7 linked regions of the Homo sapiens genome follow. The protein of the gene in region 5 purifies or fractionates together with the protein of the main gene of each other region. This does not show direct contact. Each region holds a gene or a part of one and is shown on either strand. Other genes may lie near its edges. The genes, in order: GAN, TJAP1, KIF15, CCDC102A, SYNC, GOLGA5 and GOLGA3.

What was found.
Region 1: the proteins of SYNC (region 5) and GAN purify together in Homo sapiens (affinity purification with mass spectrometry; 2 studies listed by BioGRID and IntAct, with this or other methods). This does not show direct contact.
Region 2: the proteins of SYNC (region 5) and TJAP1 purify together in Homo sapiens (affinity purification with mass spectrometry; 2 studies listed by BioGRID and IntAct, with this or other methods). This does not show direct contact.
Region 3: the proteins of SYNC (region 5) and KIF15 purify together in Homo sapiens (affinity purification with mass spectrometry; 2 studies listed by BioGRID and IntAct, with this or other methods). This does not show direct contact.
Region 4: the proteins of SYNC (region 5) and CCDC102A purify together in Homo sapiens (affinity purification with mass spectrometry; 2 studies listed by BioGRID and IntAct, with this or other methods). This does not show direct contact.
Region 6: the proteins of SYNC (region 5) and GOLGA5 purify together in Homo sapiens (affinity purification with mass spectrometry; 2 studies listed by BioGRID and IntAct, with this or other methods). This does not show direct contact.
Region 7: the proteins of SYNC (region 5) and GOLGA3 purify together in Homo sapiens (affinity purification with mass spectrometry; 2 studies listed by BioGRID and IntAct, with this or other methods). This does not show direct contact.

The regions. Positions count from the first base shown.
Region 1 is NC_000016.10:81,356,462-81,359,961, reverse strand, and holds part of GAN (gigaxonin), read right to left. Parts: intron 3,178-3,500; coding exon 2,960-3,177; intron 2,153-2,959; coding exon 2,031-2,152; intron 1-2,030. UniProt on the Homo sapiens protein: Probable cytoskeletal component that directly or indirectly plays an important role in neurofilament architecture.
Region 2 is NC_000006.12:43,498,070-43,501,569, forward strand, and holds part of TJAP1 (tight junction-associated protein 1), read left to right. Parts: intron 1-853; exon of another isoform or gene 854-908; 5' UTR 909-932; coding exon 933-1,031; exon of another isoform or gene 1,032-1,067; intron 1,068-2,674; coding exon 2,675-2,703; intron 2,704-3,456; coding exon 3,457-3,500. UniProt on the Homo sapiens protein: Plays a role in regulating the structure of the Golgi apparatus.
Region 3 is NC_000003.12:44,792,794-44,796,293, reverse strand, and holds part of KIF15 (kinesin-like protein KIF15), read right to left. Parts: intron 2,078-3,500; coding exon 1,868-2,077; intron 1-1,867. UniProt on the Homo sapiens protein: Plus-end directed kinesin-like motor enzyme involved in mitotic spindle assembly.
Region 4 is NC_000016.10:57,523,072-57,526,571, forward strand, and holds part of CCDC102A (coiled-coil domain-containing protein 102A), read right to left. Parts: intron 3,057-3,500; coding exon 2,830-3,056; intron 1-2,829.
Region 5 is NC_000001.11:32,696,271-32,699,770, forward strand, and holds part of SYNC (syncoilin), read right to left. Parts: intron 1,160-3,500; exon of another isoform or gene 1,066-1,159; intron 1-1,065.
Region 6 is NC_000014.9:92,797,305-92,800,804, forward strand, and holds part of GOLGA5 (golgin subfamily A member 5), read left to right. Parts: intron 1-103; 5' UTR 104-133; coding exon 134-677; intron 678-3,500. UniProt on the Homo sapiens protein: Involved in maintaining Golgi structure. Stimulates the formation of Golgi stacks and ribbons. Involved in intra-Golgi retrograde transport.
Region 7 is NC_000012.12:132,783,870-132,787,369, forward strand, and holds part of GOLGA3 (golgin subfamily A member 3), read right to left. Parts: intron 2,919-3,500; coding exon 2,824-2,918; intron 2,687-2,823; coding exon 2,470-2,686; intron 439-2,469; coding exon 295-438; coding exon of another isoform or gene 157-294; exon of another isoform or gene 1-156. UniProt on the Homo sapiens protein: Golgi auto-antigen; probably involved in maintaining Golgi structure.

The sequences.
Region 1 (3,500 bases), on a different chromosome or scaffold from region 5:
TTTTGGTTTCTGTGGTTTTATCACCCATGGTCAACTGCAGTCCGAAAATAGGTGAGTTCAGTAAAGTAAGATATTTTGAGAGAGACCACATTCACATAACTATTACAGTATATTGTTATCGTCGTTTTATTATCAGTTATTGTCGTTAATCTTTTACTGTGCTGAACTTAAACTTTATCATGGGTATGGATGTATAGTAAAAACACACAGTATGTACAGGGTTCAGCACTATCTGTGGTCTCAGACAACCACTCGGGGGTCTTGGAATGCATCCCTCATTGATAAGGGGGATCTACTGTACATATTTATTAGTGATAATGCATTTTAAAACTGTAAGAGTATGGAAAATGGAAAATGAAGAAAAACTCTCCTGAAGAGAACACAGGTACTGACTAACTTTGGACTTTGCTAACTTAATACAGGCTGTAATTTCTAAGGTAATCTTCCTAAAGGACTATTAACAAGAATGTAAGTCCCAAACTGGTAGAGAAGAAAAATTGAATGACAAAAAAACAGTCAAAATCAATTTTTAAAAAGGCAAAAAAAAAAAAAAAAACAATGCAGCCTGGACAAACGGAAGGACCTCCTCAATCACTCACTTCTGTTTCCATCAATTCCACTGTACACAGTCGCTCCTTCCATTGCTGGGTTTCTGAAACACCAATCCCTCTAGCAAACTTTCAAATATTAGTCATATAGGAGCCTTTGTGACAGACGTGTATGTGTGAAAATTAGGAATATGTGTATATATTTTGGGGGAAATGTAAGGGAGCTAATTCTGAGAAGATGCAACAGGGAAACTAGACCTACATCCTGCAGGCTATACTACTCTGTCCAGCTCTTCACTACTGACAATAACTAATAATTTTGGGACTCATAAAATGACTCCACTTCTATACTATGGTAGAGCCTTGGCCATTTGTATGATGCACTGTGGTACAGTATAGCTTTAAAAATATTATAGCCTGGGCAACATTGCAAGATCCCATCTCTAAAAAGAAAAATAAAATAAAAAATAAAATTTTAAAGATAATGTTGCTGGGCAAGCAAACACAATTAAATAAGGACTGCAGGAGGGCTGCTGACCACAATTAGGATGACATGAGATGACACTTATCAGGTGGACAAGGGAGCAGGACCACGGCGAAAAGACAGGCAGCCAGCAAAGGCAATGCCTCAATGGCTATCTTTTCTATCAGCTCCTTAAGGGAGAGCTTTGGATAAAGTAGAGCAGTTTTCAAACTTGTAAAGGTCAAGTAAAGCATTTTCCATACTAAATAACTTTAAGCCATTGCCTATATAAGTAGCATTTCCTAAAGTCTCATAACTTCTCTTTTTTTTTCTTTTTTTTTTGAGACAGGGTCTCACTCTGTCACCCAGGCTGGAATGCAGTGGTGTGATCTTGGCTCACAGCAGTCTCGATCTCCTGGGCTCAAGAGATTCTCCCACCTCAGCCTCCCAAGTAGCTGGGACCACAAGTGCATGCCACTATGCCTGGCTAATTTTTTTGATTTTTAGTAAAGACAGTTTCTCTCCTACATTGTCCAGGCTGGTCTTGAACTCCTAGGCTCCTCTCACTTTAGCCTCCTAAACTGCGGGGATTACAGGTGTGAGCCACCACACTCGGCCTTATATAACATATTTTATATAATTACATATTGTAATTCTAAGCTGCATGAATTTCAAAGATGGGACTACCATGGTGCAAAGAAACGCTGTGTTCCAGGTGTGGCCCTACAGCTACTTAGTGGTAAGCATCACTGAAGTTTGCTCTCCTGACATTAAGTCATCAAGTAACTGCTTCTCCAGTAGTTCTTAAAAGCAGCTATGTGCTGAAGATACAGAGATAATAAGGACTGACAGAAAATACGGTTTTCCTAACCACGGTCTCAGAAGCTAGAACTACACTAAAAATGTCATGTAGAGATAATAAAATTGTATCTTTAAAAGGCTCTGAGTCATTCTGTAAAACCTTGAGATTACACATTACTTGATCTGCTGTTTAAGGAAAATTTGCCACAGAACGGTACCTGCTGAGAGAACTCCATGGTTAATTCTCGGCATGCTTAAAGGGGCCAGTTCGATCCAAAGCTGCCTGTTAGGGTCATAGAGAGGGCACATGCATCGCATCGCTGCTGTGGGTTTCCGTGAACTAAGGAAGTAAATAAGTGATCAGTAGTTAATGTGCTTCATACAGTTCTTTTTATAAGTAGCCATCACTAGTTTTAGTTTACTAAAGAATATTTAAAACATTTTTTAAAAACCCTTGTGGAAGTCAGTGTGACGATTCCTCAGGGATCTAGAACTAGGAATGCCATTTGACCCAGCCATCCCATTACTGGGTATATACCCAAAGGACTATAAATCATGCTGCTATAAAGACACATGCACACGTATGTTTATTGCGGCACTATTCACAATAGCAAAGACTTGGAACCAACCCAAATGTCCAACATTGATAGACTGGATTAAGAAAATGTAGCACATATACACCATGGAATACTATGCAGCCATAAAAAAGGATGAGTTCATGTCCTTTGTAGGGACATGGATGAAATTGGAAATCATCATTCTCAGTAAACTATCGCAAGAACAAAAAACCAAACACCGCATATTCTCACTCATAGGTGGGAACTGAACAATGAGAACACATGGACACAGGAAGGGGAACATCACACTCTGGGGACTGTTGCGGGGTGGAGGGAGAGGGGAGGGATAGCTTTAGGAAATATATCTAATGCTAAATGATGAGTTAATGGGTGCAGCACACCAGCATGGCACATGTATACATATGTAACTAACCTGCACATTGTGCACATGTACCCTAAAACTTAAAGTATAAAAAAAAAAATCAAATGTAATTATGTTTTAGATACTGAAAAGCATTATGAATTCTTGTTTACATGGAACTACCTCTTCCCATACACCACTTTTCAAACAAGTCCCACCTCATACTTACACTCTCTCTTCTCCACCAACAGTCACGATGCACTCAGAGTAGCCCCGGGGTTTGAAGTTGGCCAGCATCGCCTCCCCTTGCTGCGGCTGGCTGAGCGGTATATTGCTACACTCTTTGACAATTTCTCGTACTAATGGTTCATTCAGCATCTGTTCCCGTAAATAACTGGAGTCCAACCCTGAAACCCACAGAGCTGACATAACATCCTTCATGTGGACCTGCAGAAGAGGGAAGAAAGATGGGGCGAAAACAATGGAAAATGCAACACATCATTTTTAGAATCTACATTTTCCACCTCATGGAAAACAAACTGTTAACACTCAGGTTATTACCAGGCAAGTGAGACACACTCGTGCTGCTTGAATATCTTCTCCTGGCCCTAACTGTCTACTTCCCAGAGTCTTGATAAGTAAAAGTTTAATTTTTAAAAATCATCAGTTTATTTGAGGTATCACTGTAAAAGTTTCAAGCAGCTTCCTTTACACCTTAAAGGATTCCCATTTCAATAGGAAAAGACAGGAAAAGAACCAGCTATAATTTG
Region 2 (3,500 bases), on a different chromosome or scaffold from region 5:
CTGGTGAAAAGAGTGGTGGAGGCCACAGGGGTTTGGTCATCAGTGGCTGAGGCCAGAGAGCTCTCTTGGGCCTTGAGACTCCCACTGGGGATCCTGGATTGTATCCCCAAACTCACATTTTTGGTTATGATTTTTTTTAAACTAACATTTATTCAACATTTCCTAAGTGTTTTACATCATCTTCCCAACAACCCTATGAATTGGTGCTATTCTTAACTGGAATCAGTAGCTCACACCTATAATCCCAGCACTTTGGAAGGCCAAGACAGAGGGATTGCTTGAGCTTGAGAGTTTGAGCCTGGGCAACAAAGTGAGACGCTGTGTACAAAAAATAGCCAGGTGCAGTGGCACATGCTTGTGGTCCGAGCTACACAGAAGGCTGAGGCAGGAGGATTACTTGAGCCCAGGAGGTCGAGGCTGCAGTGAGCCAAGATTGCGCCACTACACTCCAGCCTGGGCAACAGAGCAAGACCCTGTCTCAAAAAAGAAAAGAAAAAAAGAAATTGATGCTGTTTTATCGCTAATTTAGAGTTGAGAAAACTAATGCATAGAGAGCAGTTTTACCTTCTGAGGCCTTCAGAGCCCACAAAGGAGAGTGGTAAGGAGGGTGGTGGGCTGCTTTGAAGCTCCCTGTCCCACTCTTAGAACCTAGGTGTTCAGGCCCTAGGCCCTGCCTTTCCCACCCATCTGTTCCCCGTTGGACCCATGCCCCACCCTCCAGCACTCCTTTGACCTATGGGGACTGACACACCTAAGTCCTGCCCCTCTAGTGACTCCAGTAATGGCCCAGGCCTGTCAGCCTATGTGGTGGCCTCAACATATGTCCCCTTTCACCATCTTTGTTTTTTCTCAGTCCAGAGTCCTTCTGGCCACATCTCTGAGCCTGCCTCCTTCTTGCTTCTCAGCAGGCGGAGGAGCCGTCACCTCCCAGAATGACTAGTGCCGCCCCTGCTAAGAAACCCTACCGTAAGGCACCACCAGAGCATCGGGAGCTGCGTTTGGAAATTCCTGGATCCCGGCTTGAGCAGGAGGTCAGCAAGACTGGTATCACAGCCTGACCGGCAGAGGCAAGGCCCCTGAGGCTGGGTGTCTGGCTGACTTCTCCTGCCTGAGCTTCTGGTCCTGAGTTGGGGTGAGAGTGGGCCTTGCTGTTGCAGGCCTGAGGTCTCCTAGCCGCAGTAGTGCAGGTGGGGGTAATGTAGGCTCAAGGGGGACTGTCTGTGAGTATATGTCCACATGTCAGGGAACCCCTGAGTCTTTGTAGCTTAGCAGAAATGATCCCATATGATATTCTCCCTGCAAGAGGCAGCCCAGTAGACTGAGGGGTCCTAATCTGCTAGTGGTTGGGACTCTGGTCCTCCGTAGTGGAGTAGAGCCATTCAACCTGTGGCCCCTTTGGGGCATATCAGGAGGCAGTGCTACAGCCACTTCCCACCAGCACAGCTGCTCTTCATTGTCCCCAGGAAGTCCAGCCCTTCCTCCAGCTTTGCTTTGTTTGGCTAACATTTGTTGAATATGTACTCCCTGCCAGGAACTGTTAGGTCCGGACTCTGCTCTTCGGGGCCTATAGTCAGCTGCAAAACATTGGCTCTCCTGCCCCATTAACTTCACTCACAGGCAGAAACGAGGGCCACAGTGGTTTACTGCCCTTGCAGCCATATCTCCATCTGGTCACAGTGCGTGGAGCACATTTAAAGAACCTGAGACGCAGCATGTGCTGAGCATCAGGCATACTGTAGCCTGCTTTGGTCAGATTCAAGGTAGAAAAGCCATGACTTGCTCATTTCAGTTCAGGGAACATTAAATTAAGATGCCAGCTATTATGCTAGGTGCTACCCAGCGAGCATTACCTCAGTTTTATAAATGAGGGAACTAAGGCTCGGTGAGGTGAAGGCTGTATAATCAGTATGCAGTAGAATAGGGTGAAATCCAGTTGTCAGAGTCAATGGACAAAGGAAGCCACCTACCTCCATTTTCTGCCAGAGGCTGCTCTTCTGAAGCAGTCAGTTCCACATAGAATAGGCCCCTTGATGTTTCCCTCTCGCGATAGCAGGGGCCTACTCTGCTTTGTGGTTGGCTGAACTTGACTCTTGAGCCATGACTGCCATAGGGGTTTGGGGAAGATGGGGCAGGAGGTTAAAAGACAGACAAGGCACTTCCTCCCCTTAGTCAGGATTAGTCCTCTTCTCCCATGCACTTGTTCTTCCTGAGCCTCTGCAAGAGCCTGATTCTGCCTTTGTCTTCATCTCAAGGCTGAGGGCTTTGTCAGAGCTCAGAACTCGTGTGTATAGTTCAGCCTGACTTTTCTGGAAGGTCTCTGCCATACCTCTGTGGATACAGGACCCACCAGGAGCCGAGTGAACAGCTGAGAGGCTGTCTGCCCCTGGGGAGAGGTAGCTTGGGTGCCAGGACTTATTTGAAAATGGCTTTAGGATTGGATTAAGGGTGAAGGTTGGAAGAGGTTCTTGAATCTTCTGGTTGGCATGGGAGAGGGTAGTCGAGGCTTGTCCCAGCATTACTGAATTGCTTCCATCCGTAGAGAGCCCTGCAGCCCTCTTCTGCTATAAGAGTCTTTGGGCTTCACACCTGAGCCTTCTTGTGGCTATTTGGAGGGTGAGCCAGCCGGGGGTCCAGTGGTCCAGAGCTGAGCCTCAAGCCTCTCTTTTTTGCCTAGGAACCCCTGACTGATGCAGAAAGGATGAAGTGAGTATCTGCTACCTGAGATACTGCCCTGCCTCAACTCTGTCCCTCTTAGCTCCAGGCTAGACTGTTGGTACAGTTGGACTTTCCCTTGGATTAGGTAGAAATAAAGGTTGGGATGGGTTGTTTTAGGGACTCTGGGAGGAGTGTTGATGTTGTGGATATTTTTTCTGGAAAATGGGATTTTATTGTTCCATGGGCTTCAAGAGAGCGTAGAATCAGGAGGCGAATGGCTCTGAGGGCCCTGCTCTTCTTGCTAAGGAGCCCTTCCCCAGCTCCTGGCTCCTGTACCAGCTGCCACCCTTACAGCCCTTTAGCCACATGAGGCCTCTGGAGAGGAGGGCAGTGCTGGGCTGGATTTCCAAGAGATGAATAATGGAGAAGCCTGATTGTGCAGTGGGGAAACTGGAGCTGGGGGCTTGGTGGCCAGCTGACATGGGCTGTAACCAGAGACAGGCTGGGAGCCATATCCCTACCCCCAATTCTTTATTTCTATTCTCCGATAGTGAAGGGAGGCTGGACTGTCCCCTACCATCCCCTCTTCCTCCCCTGACCCTCCAACCCAGGCTGTGTTCCCAGGGCCAGCAGGCCTATGAAATATGCTGCCTTAGACTCAGACTAAGACTCCAGGAGTTTCCCTGTCCTGTTTGCCTGTCCTCATGTCATCCCTTCCTTCCTGAGCCCACTCTGGAGCTCCAGGGCATGCCCTTCTATCTCTCATACCCCTCTGCCCTTGATCCCACAACACCCTGCCAGGCTCTTACAGGAGGAGAATGAAGAGCTTCGCCGGCGCCTGGCCT
Region 3 (3,500 bases), on a different chromosome or scaffold from region 5:
TCGACCTCCTGGGTTCGAGGGATCCTCCCACCTCAGCCTCCCAGGTGCTAGGATTACAGGCATAAGCCACCATGCTCAACCCATATGCTATATTTATTAAGCCTCATATCTCAATAGAAATATGAGCTTTAGGCTGGGCGTGGTGGCTAACGCCTGTAATCCCAACACTTTGGGAGGCCAAGGAGGGTGGATCACCTGAGGTCAGGAGTTCAAGACCAGCCTGGCCAAAATGGTGAAACCCCATCTCTATTAAAAATACAAAATATTAGCTGGGTGTGGTGGTGGGCGCCTGTAATCTCAGCTACTTGGGAGGCTGAGGCAGAAGAACTGCTTGAACCAGAGAGGCAGAGGTTGCAGTAAGCCGAGATCATGCCACTGCACTCCAGCTGGGTGACAGAGTGAGACTGTCTCAAAACAAAAAAATATGAGCTTCAGATTGCCTGAAACTGCCTCAAATGTAGGTCAGGCGACTCAAATCCTCACTTTTAATGAAAAAAGTAGATCTCTTCCCTCATCCTTTCCAATTCCTCTCCCCTTGCCCATGTATATTCTAAACTATAGACTCTACAAATATTTTATTGACAATTCGTATTACTATATATATATATATATAAACACATATTGACAATACATATTACATAGAACCTCTGGTCCCACTGTTGATACCTTAGCCTAGGACTAGATACTTAACCCTTCATACCTGAAATATTAAACAGCGTAAGTGGTCATCTTTTTCTGTGGGCTCTCCCTTCTAAAATCTTAACAGCAGTGGGTCAGATGACTAAGTTTCTATAAAACAGGCTTTCTTCATGAATCACTTAGTTGCTAAGAAATGTTAAGTGTTTCCCAGTATTCGCAGAGTTGATACAAACTTGGCCTGGCACTCCTGGTCCTTGATAATCCGGGCCTGCTTGCCTCTCTAACCAACCCATCCATTGAGCCATGCTGAAATGCCAAATGCTACACTCATTCTGCATCCACAATAACCCTTGAGATGCCCCCCTGCCAGGCATGCATTTCCTGTTTCTCTCTCCCTACCGAAATCCTTCACAAGTCAAGAACTACTTCTTTTCCACATGTTCCACAAGCAGTCCATATTGCACCCTTCTTCCTCTGACCCCTGTTGTCTCTTGTACCCTTATCCCCTCTGGTATGAATTAAAACATTTTTGCTACTGACAGACTTGCCCTATCCCATCTATGTTCACTGTTCCACAAAAGAAATCTCTGTTCCTTTTCAATAGGAACAATTTCTTATTTCTTTGCCACCCTCAAAACACTTAGCTTGGTATGGTCATATATCAGTTAACAACACGGATACATTTTTTTTTCTGAGACAGAGTCTCTCTCTGTCACCCAGACTGGCGTGCAGTGGCGCGATCTCAGCTCACTGCAACCTCGGCCTCCCAGGTTCAAGTGATTCTCCTGCCTCAGTCTCCCAAGTAGCTGGGACTACAGGCGCGCATCACCACGCCCAGCTGACTTTTGTATTTTTTTAGTAGAGACGGGATTTCACCACGTTGGCCAGGATGGTCTCGATCTCCTGACCTCGTGATCTACCTGCCTCAGCTTCCCAAAGTGCTGGGATTACAGGTGTGAGCCACCGCGCCCGGCTAACAGGGGTACATTTTAAGAAATGTGCTGTTAGGAAATTTGATTGTTTTGTGGGCATCATAGAATATACTTATGCAAACCGAGATGGTATAGCCTACAACATACCTAAGCCATGTGGTATAGCTATTATACTCTTAAGGGACCCCCATCATAAATGCAGTTCCTCATTGACTGAGACACTGTCATGCATCACGACTGTATTGACTGCTAGTAAGAACTCACACACAAGTTGAAGACCATAATTTCATTCTTACCTTCAATCTCATCCCTTCTGCATGGGTATCTTTTTGCCTTTCAGATCCTGCTAAATCCACCAGGTTGAGTAGGGAGGTCCGTATATTCACAATCTCATTACTTTTCTCCATTGACTCTATTGTAATTGTAAAGACGGCATGAGACCTAGACGATTCTCTGTTCATTGATGTTGATGCCACACGTCTATTCCTCCATCCTCCAGACAACACCTATGCAAAAGGAAAACATATTAAAAGAAATGAGAGGACCAGTTACAGTGGCTTATGCCTGTAATCCTAGCAGTTTGGGAGGCCATGTCTGGAGGATCACTTGTGGATAGGAATTCAAGACCAGCCTGACCTACATAGTGTGAGACCTCACCTCTACAAAAAATAATAATTTGCTATGTACAGTGGCAGGAACCTGTAGTCCTAGCTACTCGGGAGGCTGAGGTGGGAAGATCTCTTGAGCCCAGGAATTCAAGGCTGCAGTGAGCCATGATTGTGCCACTGCACTCCAGCCTGAGCAGCAGGGCAAGATCCTATCTTAAAAAAAAAAAAAAAAGGAAAAGAGAAAAAAAAAGGAACAAGAATAGGTACACTTAAAATGTAAAATAAGCACTTGAGAATCACTCATTTTATTATGAAAAATACTAACATACAGCTAATTATCTACTTTCATAGGGAAAAAGAAATATATTTACATAAAGCATATTTTCTATTTAGAACAGGGGTGAGGAGTATCTATTGCCTTCCATTGTTATCTAGCTTTATAAGATAAATTATATTATCCCAAGTTCCAAATGGTACACAACAGCCACCAAAATCAGTAGGAAATTTGTAAAGGGTGGTGAGAAAGATTACTGGTCCATTAAGGAATAAGCTGAAGTTATTTTCCTTTCCTTTGTGTTCCCTTTCCACATTACAGAAACAGAACAAACAGGAAATCAGAGCGCATAGGATCTAGAACTGGTTTTGCCACGCTTTATTTGTGTTAACCTAATGTAAATCACAAAACCTCTCTGAACCCATTTCTTTACCTAGAAAATGAGAATGTTGGACAGGAAAAATCTGTAAATTATCTTTAAGCCCAAAGTTTTGTAAGCTTTTGGTCTACAAAGTATTTTTTCCCTTCTATTCCCTATGGCAAGCAGGATACATGAAAGTTCAGAATGCAGGCTCTGGAATCAGATGCATATGAGTTCAAACCATGGCTCCACTATTTACTAGGCGAGGTCTGGGGCCAGCTGAACCTTTTCAAGCCTCAGCCTTCATATTTGTAAAATGGGAATATGGGTACCTATCCCATAGAACAGAACATATAAGTTTTAGGTGCATATGAATCATCTACAGATGTTGTTAAAATTCAGATTCAGATTCAGTGTGAGGTGGGGCCTGAGATTTTGCATTTCTAACAAGCTCTCAGGTGATGCTGATGTTCTGAGGACCACATTTTGGGTAGGAGGGTAACAGTATATATAGGGTAAAATGGGGAAATTAGTGTCTTTATCTCAAAGGGCATATTGAAAATTAAGTAAAATAATGTATACAAAAGAAGTTAGCACAGTGCTTGGCACCTTCACTCAATAAATCATAGCTGTTGGCAGGGCACGGTGGCTCACGCCTGTAATTCCAGCACTTTGGGAGGCCCAGG
Region 4 (3,500 bases), on a different chromosome or scaffold from region 5:
CATGAGAATTGCTTGAACCAGGGAGACAAGAGATTGTAGTGAGCTGAGATAGAGCCGCTGTACCCCAGCCTGGGCAACAGAGCGAGACTCTGTCTCCAAAAAAAAAAAAAGTTACTTTCACTTCTACTTTATATTTCAGTTAGTGCACTAGGTTGATTTTTTTGCTTGTTTGGCTTAAACAGTCTAAATTTATTCTCTCATATTTCTAGAGGCTAGAAGTCCAAGATCAAGCTGTTGGCAGGACTGGTTCTCTGAGGGCTGCGAGAAAGAATCCGTTCCATGCCTCTCTCCCAGCTTCTGGCAGTTTGCTGGCCATCTTTGGTATTCCTTGGCCAAAGATGCAACAATGTCCGCAAAAGCATCACCCTGACCTCTGCCTACATCTTCACAAAGGCATTATAGTGATTTTTTTTTTTTTTTGAGACAGCGTCTCTCTCTGTCACCTAGGCTGGAGGGTACTGGTGCATTCATACAATCACAGCTCCCTCAGCCTCGACCTCCTGGGCTCAAGCGATCCTCCCGCCTCAGCCTTCCAAGTAGCTGGGACTACAGTGGCACAGCCCCGTTCCCAGCTAATTTTTTTTTTTTTGTAGGCCAGGCACAATGGCTCATGCCTGTAATCCCAGCACTATGGGAAGCTGAGGTTGGTGGATTACCTGAGGTCAGGAGTTCGAGACCAGCCTGGCCAACATGGTAAAACTCCGTCTCTATGAAAAATACAAAAATTAGCCGGGTCTGGTGGCTAATTTTTTAGCCACCCTCTGGGTTGTCCCCTCTGGGAACCCCATGTTGGAGGCGTGGAGTGTTCCACTCTCAGAGAGAGAGGCCAGTGTGGTGTGGGGTCATGAAGGGCAGCGTGCTGGAAGGTGATGCTGAGCTCAGCCATTGGTGAGCACCTACTCTGCCAGGGCCAGGCATCATGCTTGTAACCTACAGTGCCTTATTCAAGATCAAGGCAGGGTGGGGGTTATGGGAGGATGTAGGGATCCCACACAGTGACGATGGCAAGAGAGAACCCTCTCTTCGGGTCACTGGACAGTGTTTTCCAGTGTTTCTATCTGCAGAAACATGTGTTCAGACCAAGCCTTGCAGGGAACATAGTCTACAAAACAGACAGGAGCAGGGTGGTCTTTGACAGCCCTTCGAGAAGAACAAGGTGGGCCAAGGAGTGGAGTGGCCAGTGCTGGGGCCGCCACCTCCTGGAGCCATTTTCAGATGAGCCTGAGGTGCAGCAGGAGAGAGGTACTTGTCCGGGGATGCTCAGTGCTCTGGAACCCCGACCACCTCCCCACAATGTGAGCTGGGCACTTGCACTTGGATAGGGAATGCAGTTCCAGGAGAACTACAAAGAACATGCGCCAGAGGCATGGTGGCACATGCCTGTAATCCCAGCTACTCAGGAGGCTGAGGCAGGAGAAACACTTGAACATGGGAGGCAGAGGTTACAGTGAGTCGAGACTGTGCTACTGTACTCCAGCCTGGCTGACAGAGTGAGGCTCTGTCTAAAAAAAATATATATATATATAGAGAGAGAGACAGGGTCTTGCTGTATGGCCCAGGTTGGCCACAAGCAATCCTCTTGCCTCGGAATCCCAAAGTGCTATGATTACAGACATGAGTCACTGCACCTGGCCATTATATTGATTTTTTAAAAAGGAGTGTGTAGATAGGTTATGCTATTGTCGTATTTAATTTCTGGACAGAAAAACTGCAGAATATTCATTATCATCAAGCTCGTGCCCTCTAAACTGCTCTGATCAAGGTCACTGGTGACCTCCACATTCTAAATCCAATGGTCCAGGGCTCAGCCCTGTTCTTACTGATCACTCTGTCCTCCGGGAAACGGTTTCTTGTGGTTCCCCTTCCCAGCCCGGCTCCCTTCTCTTGTCTCCTCTGCTGTTTCCCTTTCCTCTAACTGACCTCTAAACTTGGCACTTCAGGGCTGGATCCTCTGACCAGTTCCCTATCCACACTCATTCCTTGGCCCTTGTCCACGCTCATCGTTTTATTTATTTATTTATTTATTTATTTATTTATTTATTGAGACAGAGTCTTGCTCTGTCGCCCAGGATGGAGTGCAGTGGCACAATTCCGGCTCACTGCAACCTCCACCTCCCGGCTTCAAGCAATTTTCCTGCCTCAGCCTCCTGAGTAGCTGGGATTGCAGGTGTCTGCCACCACGCCTAGCTAATTTTTGCATTTTTGGTAGAGATGGGGTTTCAATTCACCATGTTGGTCAGGCAGGTCTCCAACTCCTGACCTCAAGTGATCTGCCCACCTCGGCCTCCCAAAGTGCTGGGATTACAGGCGTGAGCCACTGCGCCTGGCCCAGCTCATGGCTTTCAATATCATCTCTTCACTGGTGACTCTTGCATTTTTACCTCCAGCCCAGGCCTGTCTCATGAACTCCAGACTCATTCACATCCCCAGCTGCCTCCCTGCCATCTCAAACTCACACGTCCAAAACCAAGGTCCCAGCTGCAACCTTCCAACTTCCCTGTCTCCATTCCCTGCTTTTACCCTGCCCACAGCCCTCTCCCCCAACTAGAAAGTACGTTTCAGGAAGGCAGGGGCTTCTGTCTTATTTACGGCTGTATCCTCAGGGCAGAGCACAGTGCCTGGCCCAGAACAGGTGCCTGGTAACGTATTATTTGAATGAATAAATAAAAACTTGCACTGAGTTCTTGGGTGGAACACCACTGCTCTACAGTTCCAAGATACAGTCTAAACACTACCTGTCATCTTCGTGAGTCTAATGTTCTGTGATTCTGAGGGCGTTGTAGCACGGCCTGGCCCTGGCCCTGCCCCCTCCCGCCTCCCACGACTCACTCTCGCTCCTTGAGCAGCACCTTCTGGGACTCATCCAGCCGTAGCCGCAGGGCGGTCAACTTGGAGGCCTCCTCCTCCGTGGCAGCTGTGTCCTCCCAGGGTAGCCGGCTGCGCTCCTGGCGGCCTGAGCTGCCCCGCGGGCCCCCAGCCCCCAGGCTGCGCGCCTCCCAGCAGTCCTCAGACTCCTCTGGCATGCTCTTCAGCAGGCTCTCCACCAGCTCCAGTTCCTGCGGGGACCAAGGTGGAGGCTGGACCAGTGGCCGCCAAGCCAGGCCCTGGGTCTGAGATCAGCTTGATGGGTAACCTTGGGCAAGTCACACAGTGTCTCTGGGCCTCAGTTTCCTCTTCTGCTGCCTGCCTCTCCATCTCTGGAGAAGGAAGACACACCCTGCTCTGGGCCTCCCCTTTCACCTCCTGGAGCTGCAGAGTGTCAGCCACCATGGTTCCCTGTATCCTAGAAGATTCCCCAGGAGAGGTGGTGAGCTCCCTGTCACTGGAAGTATGCAAACCTACGGCGGGGCACCGATGGGAACAAATGTTGAAGCAGGAATTCCTATAATGGCTTAAGCCTAGATTCCTTCCAAAGGAATTCTAGCTCTAAGATCCTGTTTTTTCAGGGGCAAATAGTAAGGCATGGGGAGACTGGTGACACAGGGAAGCAGTGCCTGTGA
Region 5 (3,500 bases):
AAGGACTCGACATACCTGAGGCACCACTGTTTGTTCCACAATTATAATAATTTTTTTTTTTTGAGATGGAGTCCCGCTGTATTGCCGAGGCTGGAGTGCAATAGCGTGATGTCGGCTCACTGCAACCTCTGTCCCCCAGTTCATGCGATTCTCTTGCCTCAGCCTCCCAAGTAGCACCACCACGCCTTTTTTTTTTGAGACGGAGTCTTGCTCTGTTGCCAGGCTGGAATGCAGTGGTGCGATCTTGGCTCACTGCAGCCTCCACCTCCCAGGTTCAAGTGATTCTCCTGCCTCAGCCTCCTGAGCAGCTGGGATTATAGGCACACATACCACCACGCCCGGCTAATTTTTGTATTTTTAGTGGAGATGGGGTTTCACCATGTTAGTCAGGCTGTTCTCAAACTCCTGACCTCATGATCTGCCCGCCTCGGCCTCCCAAAGTGCTGGGATTATAGGCATGAGCCACTGCGCCCAGCCCAGTTCTAATAAAATTATAATGTTGAGGTAAAACCTTCCTTATAACTTTTTTTTTTCTTTGAGATGGAGTCTTGCTCTGTCACCCAGGCTGGAGTGCAGTGGTGCCATTTCAGCCTCCACCTCCCAGGTAGGTGGGACTACAGACACGTGCCATCACACTCAGCTGATTTTTGTATTTTTAGTAGAGATGGGGTTTTACCATGTTGGCCAGGCTGGTCTCAAACTCCTGACCTCAAGTGATCCGCCCTCTTCAGCCTCCCAAAGTGTTGGGATTACAGGCATTGAGCCACCATGCCCAGCAATTCCTGGTAACTTTTAGCCACTGGATTTACCTGATTCTTCCTTCTAGGATCAGATATTTCTACCTTCTTTTCTGTGTAAGTTATCTAAACACTTAAAGAGAACCATGGTCGGCCAGGCGTGGTGGCTCACACCTGTAATCTCAGCACTTTGGGAGGCCGAATCAGGCGGATCACCTGAGGTCGGGAGTTCAAGACCAGCCTGACCAACATGGAGAAACCCCATCTCTACTAAAAATACAAAATTAGCCGGGCGTGGTGGTGCATGCCTGTAATCCCAGATACTCACTGAGGCAGGAGAATCTCTTGAACTTCAAAGAGGCAGAGGTTGCAGTGAGACGAGATTGCACCATTGCACTCCAGCCTGGGCAACAACAGCGAAACTCCGTCTCAAAAAAAAAAAAAAGATAACCGTGGTCAAGTGCGGTGGCTCATGTCTGTAATCCAGCACTTTGGGAGGCCAAGACCTCTTGAGTCCAGGAGTTTAAGGCCAGCGTGGGCAACATGGCGAAACCCCATCTCTACAAAAAAATACAAAAAATTAGCTGGGCATGATGGTGTACACCTGTAGTCCCAGATACTTGGGAGGCTGTGGTGGGAGAATCACCTGAGCCTGGGAGGTCGAGGCTGTGCTGAGCCATGACTGCACCACTCTGCACCCCAGCCTGGGCAACAGAGACCCTGTCAAAAAAAAAAACAAAAAAAACCCAGCTTATCTTTGTTATTCCATACATGTCCAGGTTTCCAGTGCCCTCTTCATTTGTGTCATATCCTTGTGACACAAATGACAGCTTTCAGACTGTCACTCTTTTGAGGATTTTTTTTTAATTTGCCTTTATTCTTAAGTTCCCCAAGAGCTAGAAATTGGGATGGGTATCAAAAACAGTGCCCCAGGGCTGGGCGAGATGGCTCACGCCTGTAATGCCAGCACTTTGGGAGGCCAAGACGGGTGGATCACCTGAGCTCAGGAGTTCGAGATCAGCCTAGCCAACATGGTGAAACCCCGTCTCTACTAAAAATACAAAACTTAGCAGGGCATGATGGTGCATGCCTGTAATCTCAGCTACTCGGGAGGCTAAGGCACAAGAATCGCTTGAACCTGGGAGGCAGAGGTTGCAGTGAGCCGAGATCACACCACAGCCTGGGCGACAGACCGGGACTCCATCTCAAAAAAAAAAAAAAAAAAAAAATGCCGGGCGTGGTGGCTCACGCCTGTAATCCCAGCACTTTGGGAGGCTGAGGCAGGCGGATCATGAGGTCAGGAGATCGAGACCATACTGGCTAACACAGTGAAACCCCGTCTCTACTAAAAGTACAAAAAAATTAGCCAGGCGTGGTGGCGGGCACCTGTAGTCCCAGCTACTCGGGAGGCTGAGGCAGGAGAATGGTGTGAACCTGGGAAGCGGAGCTTGCAGTGAGCCCAGATTGCGCCACCGCACTCCAGCCTGGGCAACAAAACCAAACTCTGTATCAAAAAAAAAAGTTTTTCATACCAAGTGCTTGTAAGCAACATTTCTTGTTTCTGTAAAAGTTCATCTTGTTAGAACTGGCCCACCCTTCTATCCTGTCAAACGCTCTTGAAGTCAGATTCCATCATTCTGACATCTGAGCTCTTTGACCCAGCTGCCTATTGCCTGCCAGCTCAGTCAGTTCCCACTGGGGAGTGTTCTCTTGCTGCTTTGCCCCTCAAATGCAAATAGCTTTGGTCTTTCCTGTTTCTGTTTTTTTGTTTTTGTCTTTTTTTTTTTTTTTGAGATGGAGTCTCCCTCTGTCGCCCAGGCCTGAGTACTGTGGCATGATCATAGCTCACTGCAGCCTCAACCTCCCCGGCTCAAGCCATCCTCCTGCCTCAGCCTCCCGGGTAGCCAGGACTACAGGCACGTAGCGCCACACCCGCTAATTTTTTAACTTTTTGTAGAGATGAAGTCTCACTATGTTGCTCAGGCTGGTCTCAAACTCCTGAGCTCAAGCGATCCTCCTACCTAGACCTCCCAAAGTGCTGGGATTACAGGCATGAGCCACCACATCCGGCCACAGGCAAGAAATCTTCAGACAGCTCTTTCCCTCCCCTGTATAGCCAGTTCACTGAGAAGTGACTTTTCTTTTCTTTTTTTTTTTTTTTTTTGAGATGGAGCTTCACTCTGTCGCCCAGGCTGGAGTGCAGTGGCGTGGTCTCAGCTCACTGCAACCTCCTCCTCCTGGGTTCAAGTGATTCTCCTGCCTCAGCCTCCTGAGTAGCTGAGACTATAGGTGCCTGCCACCACGCCTGGCTAATTTTTGTGTATTTAGTAGAGACAGGGTTTCACCATGTTGGCCAGGATGGTCTCAATCTCCTGACCTCGTGATCCACCAGGGATCATGGCCTCCCAAAGTGCTGGGATTACAGGCACGAGTCACTGCGCCTGGCCAAAAAGTGACCTTTCTATCTTAGAAAGACTACAGTCTCCATCCCCCTCTTCTGCATCCCACTATCAGGGCCCTACTCCAAGACATCCTGTCTCACTGGCACTTTTGTCCTGGTCTTCTAAAAGGACTTCCTCCTCTCCTCACCTCAATCTATTCTCTACACCACCACAGTTAACTTGCTACAACACAGAGTGAACTATTGCTCCACTTCACCAATAAATACCCAAATTGCTACGCATGGTTTCAAGGTCCTTAAAGATGTGGCCCAAACATACCTTTTTTTTTTTTTTTCTTTTTTTGAGCCAGAGTCTCGCTCTG
Region 6 (3,500 bases), on a different chromosome or scaffold from region 5:
GTTAGGATTTCAACCCAGGATTGCCTGACTCCAGAGTCTGGTCTTAACCATTTATCATACTCTGCCACTATGCCACACTGATCATTTTATGTCCTTTTTACAGGTTTGCCAATAGGATTATCCTGCTGCCATCATGTCTTGGTTTGTTGATCTTGCTGGAAAGGCAGAAGATCTTTTAAACCGAGTTGATCAAGGGGCTGCAACAGCTCTCAGTAGGAAAGACAATGCCAGCAACATATATAGCAAAAATACTGACTATACTGAACTTCACCAGCAAAATACAGATTTGATATATCAGACTGGACCTAAATCTACGTATATTTCATCAGCAGCTGATAACATTCGAAATCAAAAAGCCACCATCTTAGCTGGCACTGCAAATGTGAAAGTAGGATCTCGGACACCAGTAGAGGCCTCTCATCCTGTTGAAAATGCATCTGTTCCTAGGCCTTCATCCCATTTTGTGCGAAGAAAAAAGTCAGAACCTGATGATGAGCTGCTGTTTGATTTTCTTAATAGTTCACAGAAGGAGCCTACCGGGAGGGTGGAAATCAGAAAGGAAAAAGGCAAGACACCTGTCTTTCAGAGCTCTCAGACATCAAGTGTCAGTTCTGTGAACCCCAGTGTAACCACCATCAAAACCATTGAAGAAAATTCTTTTGGGAGCCAAACCCACGGTAGTTAATCAGTCCTCTTATTTCTTTTAGAGTTAAGCAAATTGAATGTGTCATCATATGATCCGATGGTGTTTCTCATCTACTGTTATGGAATCTGTCTCCACTGGTGTAAGGGCAGACTCTCTGCAAATGTGTGGTGTAAACAAGGGAGACATCATTGACTACTATTAGTCAATAGACAGTTGTAGCAGGGACTTCATGTTGTCTGGAGGGCAACTTCACCCACTCAGCATCTAACAAAGTATTTCAAATTTGTTTCTCTAAGACATTTTAAGATTAAAAAAAGAAAATTTTGAAATCTGAAAGAAAACATGTCAGTTTGGATCGGGGACTATCCCAGTTGATATCTTTTTGTTACTAGGATTATAAAAATGACAGGAGGCTGTACTTCACGTATTTTCTGGGTTGTGTTTTTTGTGTGTTTTTCCCCCCACATCCTCCACAAATAAAGCTGAGAGACTGAACTTTGATCCAAGTTGAAGAGTTGAAGGCATTGACCTAGTAGTGAAGCAAGAGCTTAGAACTCTTGTTTTCAATTGTTTAATTCCCTCTGAGATTACCTCTACAAGTACACCTTCTTTCTTGTGAAATGAGATTAACGTGGTAAATGTGGCTAATTCAAGTACCTACTAACTGTTTTAAAATAGCTATAGGCTGGGCGTGGTGGCTTACACCTGTAATCCGAGCACTTTGGAACGCTGAGGCAGGCAGAGCACTCGTGCCCAGGAGTTTGAGACCAGCCTAAACAACATAGCAAAACTTTGTCTCTACAAAAAATACAAAAATTAGCCAGGCACAGTGGTGCATGCCTGTAGTCTCAGCTACTTGGGAGGCTGAGGCGGGAGAATTGATTGAGCTCAGGAGGTCGAGGTTGCAGTGAGCCGAGATTGTACCACTACACTCCAGCCTGGGCCGTAGAATGAGACGCTGTCTCCAAAGATAAAAATAGAAAAAAGGCAAAAAACTTGATAGTAGGTTCTTGCAGGGATTCTTTTGTTGTTTTGAGACAGGGTCTTGCTCTATCGCCGAGGCTTAAGTGCCGTGATGCTATCACAGCTCGCACTACCTTTGACCTCCCCAGGCTCAAGCGATCCTCCTGCCTCAGCCTCCTGAGTAGCTGGAACTATAGGTGCACACCACTGTGCCCAGCTAATTTTAAAAAATTATTTTTAATAGAAACAGTGTCTCACTGTGTTGCTCTGGCTGGTCTTGAGCTCAAGTGATCCTCCTACTTTGACCTCCCACAGCATTGGGATTATGGGCATGATCTACCGTGGCCTGGCCATAGGGATTTTTTTTTTTTTTTCTTTTTTGAGACGGAGTCTCACTCTGTCACCCAGGCTGGAGTGCAGTGGCCTGATCTTGGCTCACTGCAAGCTCCACCTCCTGGGTTCATGCCATTCTCCTGCCTCAGCCTCCCAAGTAGCTGGGACTACAGGCGCCTGCCATCACGCCTGGCTAATTTTTTTTTTTTTTTTGTATTTTTAGTAGAGACAGGGTTTCACTGTTAGCCAGGAGGCTCTTGATCTCCTGACCTTGTGATCCGCCCGCCTCGGCCTCCCAAAGTGCTGGGATTACAGGCGTGAGCCACTGTGCCTGGCCTTTTTTAATGTTTTTATTTATTTATTTATTTATTTTTTTGTGAGACGGAGTCTCGCTTTGTCGCCCAGGCTGGAGTGCAGTGACGCGATCTTAGCTCACTGCAACCTCCACCTCCTGGGTTCAAGCGATTCTCCATTTCAGCCTCCCGAGTAGCTGGGACTATAGGTGTGCACCACCACCCTTGGCTAATTTTTGTATTTTTTGGTAGAGATAGGGTTTCATCACGTTGGCCAGGCTGGTCTTGAACTCCGGACCTCAAGTCATCTGCCCACCTTGGCCTCCCAAAGTGCTGAGATTACAGGCGTGAGCCACCACACCTGGCCAGGGATTCTTTATAGAGTTGATTATTGATGGGAGATTGTCATGTTCTTGGATGTTATAGCTTCTTTCATTGTCTTGGCTGTTAGTGAATAAAATCTTTCTTGTATTTTCAAGACAAAAACTTGTATAGAAGAAGACGTTTTGGGTTGTGAAAATAGGATCAGGCAGTAGCAGTTGATTAATATGTTCACATATTCCAAAATTTCTTCTCAGCTATCTTTCAATTAATTACACAAAGAACCTACTAGGTGCAAGGATATGGAAGTGTCCAGTGGGTGAGCTAGACATGTAAACAGATAATTTACTTGTGGTCTAGTAAATGTAGCAATTAAGTATGGTCAGAGTGTTGTGGAAGTATGAAGGAGGAAGTAACTAATTGCCTAGGGTATTCAGAAAGGATTCACAGAGGGTCTGTATTTTTAGCTGGGTCTTAAAGAATGAACAGGAGTTTGCCAGGTAAAAAGTTAGAGACAGCATTCCATGCAGAGAGAACAGACTCTAAGAGGCTAGTAGAGTAGAAAACATTGTAACAAAGTTGGAAACACTGAGTGAGTTGGAGGGTGATGAAGAAAATGTAGCTAGCAAACAAAGTTGGGACCTGTTTGTGAAGGCCCTTGTGTCATACTGTTTATGCAATTAAACCCATTACTTCTATAATCATTGTTAAAGATTGATTCCTGAACAACAGGCTTTAGAATCGCTTGTGTGTTGTTAATTTAAAAATGAATTATTGAGTGCCTTCCCAGGCTTCCTGAATCGTTATTTTCTGGGGATGGAGCCAGGGCATCTGATTTTGTTGTTGTTGTTCTGTGGGTGGTTCTTAGCCAATAAAAGTTGAAAGTGGCTGCCATAGCCAGTGTGATGCTAGTAGAGATCTTTAAGTCAAGAGTTGACATAGCT
Region 7 (3,500 bases), on a different chromosome or scaffold from region 5:
TGGCGAAGTTGGGTTTCTTATTTGCAACCAAAGCATTTGAACTGAGAAGGGTTCCACTATGAATTCTGTAACCATTCCACCAAAGAGGCTGTACAGTGATCCTCCCCAGAGGGCTGGAATCAGGGCCTGCCCCACCACAGAGCCAGAGGCCGACGGTCAGAAGGTGGCAACACCAAAAGTAGCAACGCTGGGCACACGGTGAAGTTTTGTTCTTCGGGTCTCACGCGTGGCGGCATGTCCAGGGCTCACGTGACCTGCCCCACGCTGCCGCCACAGCAGATGGCCAGGCCTCACCTCGTCCTCCAGCTCCAGCACCTTCTCCCGGGACTCCTCCAGCTCCTGGCTGGTCAGCGCTATGACCTCCTGCAGTTCCTTTTCCAGCAGCGTCTTGCTATGACTGACAGCCTGCAGCTCCGCCTCCAGGGCCTGGATCCTTTCCTAAGGGCCAAGATGGAACGGGCGCTTGGTCATGGGACAGGCCCTGACCCCCCTCACTTCCTGTGGTGCCGGCAGGCATGAGGCTGTGTGGCTGCACACACCAGACACCAGCTGTCTGACACAGTCTCACAACCTTCCTTTTTGTTAAAGAAGTTGAATTAACCGACCACAGCATGCACACGATGACACACGGGGATAGTTGGGACAAACAAAATCATCTCTTCAGTTCAATGCTTCAAAAATACAGAAGAAAATCTGACCTGCAGATAATGGCTATAAATCACCATCTGTGGCAAGCAAGCAGCACCAGTTGTAATAAATACCACACACATGCTCACGCACCACACATCACATACACACACTCATGTAACACACACCACGTGCACATGTTCACATCCCACACACCACACACACACGTGCTCACACCCCACACGCACATGCTCACACCCCACGTGTTCACACCCCACACCACACATGCACATGTGCTCACACCTCACACTGCATGCACACATACACCCCACACTGCATGCACACATATGCTCACATCCCACACACCATGCACACAAACACTCCACACGCTGCACACACACATGCTCACACCTCACACATGCACGGATACATGCAGGCACAGGTGTGCTCTCACACCCCGCCCACTTGCTGCCTCGATGGTACCAGGCCCTTGCCAAGCATGTTCCAGTACCACCTAACTTAACCCTTACATGAGAAGGTTCTCATTCACCTCAATTTGGCCTCATTTTGCTGAGGATCAAAAAGGTGAGAAATTTGCCAAAAGTCACCACTTGCGAGGGGTGAAGCCCGGACGGACACAAGACATCGGCTCGCAGCTGTGCTATTCCTCAGCTGCAACAGCGTGGCGAGGGGCCAGCTCTGCCCGGCCTTTGCGACCTCCCCACCCCAGCCCTTAGTGAGCCCAAAGAAAATGGCAACTGAATCAATCTCCCCAACATTTTACAAAGCAACCAGGTGAGAGGAAGCACTTGATTTATTTATTGAATTTCAGACACAGAGTCTCTATCGCCCGGGCTGGAGTGCAGCAGCAAAATCATGACTCACTGCAGTTTCAGCCTCACCTCCCAGGCTGAGGCGATCCTCCCACCTCAGTGTCTCAAGCATCTGTGTCCACAGGCACGTGCTACCATGCCTGGGTTTTATTTTTGTATTATTTGTAAATACAGGGTCTAATTATGTTGCCCAGGCTGGTCTCAAACTCCTGTGCTCAAGCGATCCTCCTGCCTCAGCCTCCCAAAGCGCTGGGATTATAGGTGTGAGCCACCGTGCCCGGCCGAGTTTATTTGACAAGAAAACCCCACGTTATGATACAGTCTCTTCCTACCCATAAATTCTTAAGTGGACAGGAGATAGAAACAAACCACATATAAGAAGAAATACTAAGTTGTCAGTGCAAGGACGTGAATTGGAGAATAATAAATAAAATGCGGATGAACTCACTCAGGTAGAATGTTATGCCTACCACGAAAGGTGACAGAGCACGGAGGGCCACGGCCTCCACGGAAGGCTCTGCTCAGAGCCCTCCAGAAAGGGCACCCGCTTGTTCTGGGCCACCGCAGCATGGCTACCTCTAAACGCTCCCTGAACCCTGTCAATCGCTGACCCCATGCCCTCACTCCTGCTTCTCAGTGAGTGCGGAGGCTGCTTTTCCTCCTGAGATGCGAGGAGGCGCAGAGGCAGCTGGAACGCGAGCGGACCAGGGCAGGCCCTCCCTCTGCCCCAAGGGAGCAGCTGAACTTCTCTGAGCCAAGGAGATTTCTTGAGGAAAATCAGGTGAACGCCACAGGCCACAGGCCATGTGGGGTTCATGAGGGAGACGCGAGGCAATGCTCAGTCACTGTGGGTTCCTGGTAACCTGGAAGATGAGCGGGAGTTTAGAGAGTTGCCACCTCCCACGCGAGCTCGGCCCCGCTAGGCTTTAGGGGACAACTGCTGATGGAGAGCCCTTCCCTGCACTGAGGGGCTGGTGACCCTGGCCGGGGATGGCACGGTGTTACCTACATGTAGAGCCAGGCTGCTGTCACTGCTGCCACCCTGGGCTCGGAGCTGGCCCAGCTCCGCGTCCGCAGCCTCCTTGGCCGCGAGGGCCTCCTGCAGGCGGCGGCTGAGGATGCCCACGGCGTTCTCGTAGGCCTTATGTTTGGTCTTCATCTCCTTCTGGGCGCTGGTCAAGTCTGAGCCCAGCCGCCTCATCTTCTGCTTCTGTTCCGTGATGGCCCTGGGGTGTCATGAGGGAGACACAGGAGGAAGCTGAATTATCCCGATGTGACCGTCTGGCATTCTGGTTCGCCTCCCCCCCGGCCCCCGCACCTCCCACCTGGCCCCCGCACCTCCCCCGGGCACATGCAGACTTACTTCCGGGCCTCTTGCTGCAACTCTTCGATTTGTTTCTTCAGCGCCTCATTGGCCTCTGTGACCGCGACCATCTGCTCCTTATCGAACTGCAACGACTGTGGAAGGGAAGGAGGGCGTGAGGAGCGGCACTGCCACCCCCAGCCTGTCTCCCCTTCCTGGCTCCAGCCCATCACCCCCACCAAAGGCACTGCTCAGGCTCGCCCTGGAGGACTTGGGCCTTGAGAAAAATCCTGAGAGAGACGTCTGCCTTCTTACAAACCACTCTTTTTTTTTTTTATTGAGATGGAGTCTCACTCTGTCACCCAGGCTGGAGTGCAGGGGCGTGATCTCAGCTCACTGCAACCTCCGCCTCCCAGGTTCAAGTGATTCTCCTGCCTCAGCCTCCCGAGTGGCTGGGACTACAGGTGCCCGCCACCATGCCCAGCTAATTTTTGTATTTTTAGTAGAGACAGGGTTTCACCATATTGGTCAGGCTAGTCTTGAACTCCTGACCTCGTGATCCACCTGCCTCGGCCTCCCAAAGTGCTGGGATTACAGGTGTGAGCCACTGCACCCGGCCACAAACCACTCATTACTGAGACCAACAAGCGTTTCCAAACACTGTCCAGAGCATCAGAGGCACAACAGGACATGACTGGTTCATAGGAAAGCCTGTGGACCCAGGACCTCTCCTCCAA